Linked DNA regions of Homo sapiens: region 2 is linked to region 1. Evidence: fine-mapped expression QTL. A gene starts in region 1. The other region holds a variant in brackets. All regions are shown on one strand. Distances are between the middles of the regions.

What was found.
Region 2: its variant is fine-mapped to the expression of BCAT1 in whole blood (INTERVAL, PIP above 0.99).

Annotation. Positions count from the first base shown.
Region 1 is chr12:24,947,547-24,950,467 of GRCh38, forward strand. It overlaps BCAT1 (branched chain amino acid transaminase 1), which reads right to left and starts at 1,555. Exons shown (of 11, transcript NM_005504.7): 1 at 1,381-1,555. The coding sequence starts at 1,386. BCAT1-DT (BCAT1 divergent transcript) reads left to right here and starts at 1,617. Exons shown (of 3, transcript NR_199054.1): 1 at 1,617-1,784. RefSeq lists enhancers at 1,449-1,798, 1,919-2,008.
Region 2 is chr12:24,897,717-24,900,637 of GRCh38, forward strand. The region is part of intron 2 of BCAT1 (branched chain amino acid transaminase 1); the gene reads right to left. Among named protein-coding and RNA genes, the nearest start is that of BCAT1, 50 kb to the right of the region's middle. The variant C/CA (reference allele first, on the strand shown) is at 1,763.

The DNA of each region.
Region 1 (2,921 bases):
ACCTTCCATACTTCTTCGATCATACCTAGAATACAATCATTTCTTTCTTAATCTTAGGAAATATCAGGAAACAGAAAAGAGACTACTTGTAGATATCTTACCTAGTTCCCCATGTTATAAAAGTATCTTGTGGAAGGGACAGGGGTTTTTGGACCTACAAAAACGCGTAATTAACCACAACTGCACATGGACAGGAAAAAGCTGGAAAAGCAAGACTGTTCATTCTTAGTTTTCTCCTTTTACTTACTAAAGCTATAATCAACTAAAGTGTGTTTTTCATCTGAAATGAAACAAGCATGAGGAAGCCAGAAATAGAACCTCTAACTATAGAAGAAAAGTTGTGTGATCTCTGTTGAATACAAAAACGCATAGTTTCCACTCGGTTACTGTTTAATTGTAGTGAAAGTTTTTGTTTGGCAACAAAGGCGCTATTTACATATTATTTCTTCTAAGTGAAACTATGGTCTGGGATGGGTTGTAGATAAGAGCAGTTGAGAACCACGCTTCATCTCCCTCCTTAGAAACTCTGAAACGAGGCTTTATTCCTACCAGAAGTTCAGATTGCATTATGGTCATCTCAATTCCAAAATGTTAGATGGCAAGAATATCTGCCCATCCTTCACTTTCCTTGGAAAAAGTTGCTCTTCGGGTTTTATATGCGATTGCAGTTTTCCAGTGTGTGAAACTAGGAAAACAAAACACTCAACGGTGTACATCCCTACACCTAAATAGTCAGAAATAATAGGCAGCTAGGCTAATTATCCTTGATTAGCAAGATCAGAGCCATTAGGGTGCTCACTGGTTTAACAAATGAATGCCCTTAGGCGTCTATCATTTGTAACTCCTAGAAGCTTTAATTTCCACAAGAAACAAAATAAGAGGGGCCTTCTGCTTTTAACAGTGAAAAGATCGTTCTCCCTCCCCTCTCCACCCGGGTCAACTCTTCCAGCCGCTCCCTCCTGCATCACGAACACACGCTGCAGGAAAGCGCATTTACAGCCCGGGACATCCCCAGACCTCCTCTCCAAAATTCCCCACCTCCTGTGCATAGGAGAAACTGAGAGAAGCCCTCACTTCCTTTCCAAACTTCACAAGCAGGGGAGGGAGCTGTAGCAGACTTTCACCTCCGTTCCCAAAAGCGAATGTGAAAAAGTCCGAGAAGGCACGTCCTGCGAGTGGAGGTTAAACCGAAATCTGAACAGAATGCACGGTCCCCGCAAACTACGATTGATAAAGAAGATACTGAGACGTTTGCGGGGGATATAAGCCATGGTTGTCTCGCCTTCCTCCCCTCCCTGCCAACTATGTTTCTTGGAGAAATCGCCGGTTCGATTCACGCACACATTTTTGTAAAACACGGACAAAACCATAAGTAGTTACCTTCATTGTTCCGTCGGCCACGAGGGAAGCTCGAGCTGAGCGGAGGGCAGATCCCAAGGGTCGTAGCCCCTGGCCGTGTGGACCGGGTCTGCGGCTGCAGAGCGCGGTCCCGGCTGCAGCAAGACCTGGGGCAGTGCCCGAGGCGGCGGCGAGTACACGTGGCGGGCTGGATTGCAGACCGGCCCTCTCGCGGCGGAGACTCGCGACCTAGCGGATTGCATCAGCAGGAAGACACTAAGGCTGCTCCCCCAGGCCGCCCCCAGATGGTGGAGTCTCTCCCAGCCCGAAGATTCGGAGCCAGCGCCCAGACCCGAGCCTCACTCACTGCTCACTCCCGGGGTGCAGGGCAGAGGTGCCAGTGTTGCAAGCAAATGACACGGTTACCCCCGAATCAGCCACTGTGGGTGCGTATCCGAGTGTGGGGATGCCCGTGTAACATTTATATGGAGACGTCAAGGAGGAGGAAATAAACAGATCAGAGGTCAAATGTGATTGCCATTCCGTCATCACTGGCTCCTGCCCACCTCCCTACTGTCCCCAAAGTAACTTTGCTGCATGCTGAGAGGACCACGGCACAATCCTGCCCAAAAGTATACATGTATCCCCCGCGGCTACTTTAAATGTACTTTTGCAGTAGTCAAGAACATGTGCCTGGTTTGCCGATCTCTTTCCCAGAGTTCCTTAGTCACCCTCAAATATAACCATTTTTGCCAATTTATTATGTACATGGGGGAAAATTTTTAATCCTTTAATTTGAGCATATAAAATTCTTTATAATGTGAAATTGCCCAGTAGCCTAGTTGGTCCCCTGTAAGTTCCCTCCCCACATCTATACAAAGCTCCAGGATTGCTACTTTTCCATGTCCAGCGCCTAGGTCAGCCTCCATGACTGCTTAAGTGTGCTGCTGGTTGACCTCCGCTGCCTCTCTGTCAAGCTGGCAAACTCCTATTTTTGTAAATTTCAACCCAAGTCTTTGCTGTGGAAGTTGCTTCCAATGCCCTCAAACAGAACTGGGCCCTTGGTCTATGTGCTGCACTTTGTCCACATCCTTTCTCAAAATCAATTATTTTATTTTATCATTTTTTAATGGAGATGGGGTCTCACTAAATTGGCCAAGCTGGTCTTGAACTCCTGGCCTCAGCAATCCCCTCGCCTCCGCCTCCCAAATTGCTGGGATTACAGATGTGAGACTGTGCCCAGCTTCTTAATTTTACTTTAATTATTTGTTTGCACAGTTGTCACTTCAGTGGATTATGAGATTCGTAAGGGCAGATCCTTTGTCATATTTATCTCCCATACCAAGTGGCCTGCCGTGGAAGAGAGGGAGTGTTGAAAACAAATGTGTCAGTGCTTAATGACTGTTGGTCAGGTGAATGAATGGTTAAATTATGTGTTCAATAAATGTACTGAGTGATTTCTACATGCTAGGCTGGTATATAACAGTGGTTTGTAATCTGAAATGTCTCAAAATGGAGCCATTTATGACAAGGGTTTCAGCCTCCAGTGAAATTGCTGACCCCTCAAATTGATAAGCATATGT
Region 2 (2,921 bases), 50 kb before region 1:
CTAAGTTTTGTATTTTTGGTAGAGATGGGGTTTCACCATGTTGACCAGGCTGGTCTCGAACTCCTGACCTCAGGTGACCCACCCACCTCGGCCTCTGAAAGTGCTGGGATTACAGGTGTGAGCTACCGCGCCCGGCATATATCCAGTTTTTCAAAGTAATATACGATTAGGTGGCTTCAGAATCTCATCATGAACTTTTCTCTACTTGAAAAAAAAATTCTGCAACTCTGAAAACTAAAAATAACAACTTTTAACCTGAGCTCAAAGAGAAATTACCTAAGAATACTAAATTACTAGGTGATAGAATTGAATAAAGTTCAAACGTAAACAAGCAATATTAGCTGAAGACATGTGACTCGTTTGGGGCAGATATGAAATGTAGTTTTAAGGGAACGATTTGTTTCCTAAAGGAAACAAATTTTATAAACAATTTTTATCAGTGTTCTTTAAAAAGTATTTTCTTTTTCTAGATTTCCTTTCCAAAGATAAATAAAAATAATATTTTGTCAAATGATACTTTCTTCTGCATAATTAATCTGTCTCTTTCCAATGCTCCACATTCCCTGATGACATCGAAGTCAGGATGTTTCACATCATATGTTTGTGGAAGAATTGGAATGCCACAATAACTGATTGTGAAATGGCAAGAAATATTGAGAAAAACAGGGCATATTAAAAACAACTTCCTAATTCAAAGTTTGCAGTTGGGTAATCATTTGTTCTGAAATAGGGAGGCTCAGGGCAGGGAAGTGTAAATTTGTTGAAAGCACCTGAAAACTGTTTCAGCCAGGGTTCAGTCAACACTTTTTTTTTTTTTTTTTTTTTTTTTTGCTCTGTTGCCCAGGCTGGAGTGCAGTGGCACAATCTCGGCTCGCTGCAACCTCCGCCTCCCCGGTTCAAGCAAGTCTCAAGCCTCAGCCTCCCAGGTAGCTGGGATTACAGGCATGTGTCATCGCACCTGGCTAATTTTTGTATTTTTAATACAAACAGGGTTTCACCATGTTGGCCAGGCTAGTCTCAAACTCCTGACCTCAAATGATCCACCCACCTCAGCCTCCCAAAGTGCTGGGATTACAGGGGTGAGTCACCATGCCAGGCCTGTCAACACCTTTTGCTCACCATCGTATAGCACATTTGCTCTTCTCTTCATTGGCCACATTTTTCAAAAATCAAGTCTGTATTACAACTGTATCAGACATTTAATAACTTTATTCTAGGTTCTTGTGCATTATTCTTACTCCATTTGGAAAGCCTTAGGCACTATGTTCATCTTTTGGAGATACTCTTTTAAAATCTAATAAAGAGGATCATGAAGAGAACTGCAGATTTGCAGTGTTGCATTCTGTGGAGATATGTGAAGCTGGAGGAATTGGAAGAAATAGATGGCTGACCTCTTGCAAATGAAGAGGATCCTAGAGTCCACAGAAAGATTCGCCAGGATGTGTAACAACGTATCTCATTGCTAGGCCCTGCTGCAAAACTGCATCCTCATGTAATATGACTGCATCATAAATGGGGAGGGGAGAAGAAATACGAAAACTACCCAAGAGAGACCCAAAAGGCCATATGAAATGTTATAAATGATGTAGATTAACAAAAAGGTAGAGAAATATGTCAAAAGCAACCACAGTTAGAATGGTTATTATTAGAAAGACAAAAAATAACAGATGCTGATGAGGATACAGAGAAAAGAGAACGCTTATACACTGTTGGTAAGAATGTAAATTAGTTTATCTACTGTGGAAAATGGTATGAAGCTTTC[C/CA]AAAAAAAAAACTAAAAGTAGAATGACCATATAAACCAACAATCCTACTACTGGGTATTTTCCAAAGGAAAGGAAATCAGTATATCAAAGGGATATCTGCAGTCCCATGTTTATTACAGCACTATTCACAATAGTCAAGACATGGAATCACCTAAGTGTCCATCAATGAACAAATAAAATGTGGTGCATATACACAATGGAATACTACTCAGCCATTAAAAAAGAGTAAAATCGTGTCATTTGTAGCAACATGGATGGAACTGGAAGTCATTATGGTAAGCGAAATAAGCCAAACACAGAAAAAAAAAAAAACCCAGAAAAACAAATATTGCATGTTCTCACTCATACGTGAGAGCTAAAAAAAAAAGTTGATCTCATGGAGGAAGAGAGTACTCATAGAATGATAGATATCAGAAGATGGCAGGGGGTGGGAAGGGTGTAGGTGGAGGAAGAGAGGTTGGTTAATGAGTACAAACATACAGTTAGATAGAAGCGATAAAGTCTACTGTTCATAGCAGAGTAGGGTGATTATAGTTAACAACAATGTAGGCTATATATATATATTTTGTTTGTTTGTTTGTTTTTGTTTTTGTTTTTTGAGACAGAGAAAAGTATATCAAAAACAAAGATGGTCTATAAAATCTACCATTTTTATTCCCTAAATTATCAATATCATTTTTACACATGCCTTATTACATATGTGCTGTGAATACATCCACCATAACTCATGTTTTGATGTGTAAATACATGAGTGTAAACAGGCAATTCCCCTAAATAAAACCTAATATACAGAAATCTAAATTAACAAATAAAAAAGATTATTTATGGCCAGGCATTGTGGCTTATGCCTGTGACCCAGCATTTTGGGAGGCCGAGGTGGGAGGGTTGCACAAGCCCAGGAGTTGGAGATCAGTCTGGGCAACACAGGGAGATCCCATCTCTACAAAAAATGACGAAATTAGTTGGGCCTGATGGCATGCAAGCCGATAGTCTCAGGTACTTGAGAGGCTAAGAGGATCACTTGAGTCTGAGAGATCAAGGCTGAAAGTGATACCTAATTGATGGTGCCACTGCACTTCAGTCTGGGCAACAGAACAAGACTCTGTCTCAAAAAAAAGAAAAAGAAAGGAAAAGATTATTTAAATTTGAGTTGATATTT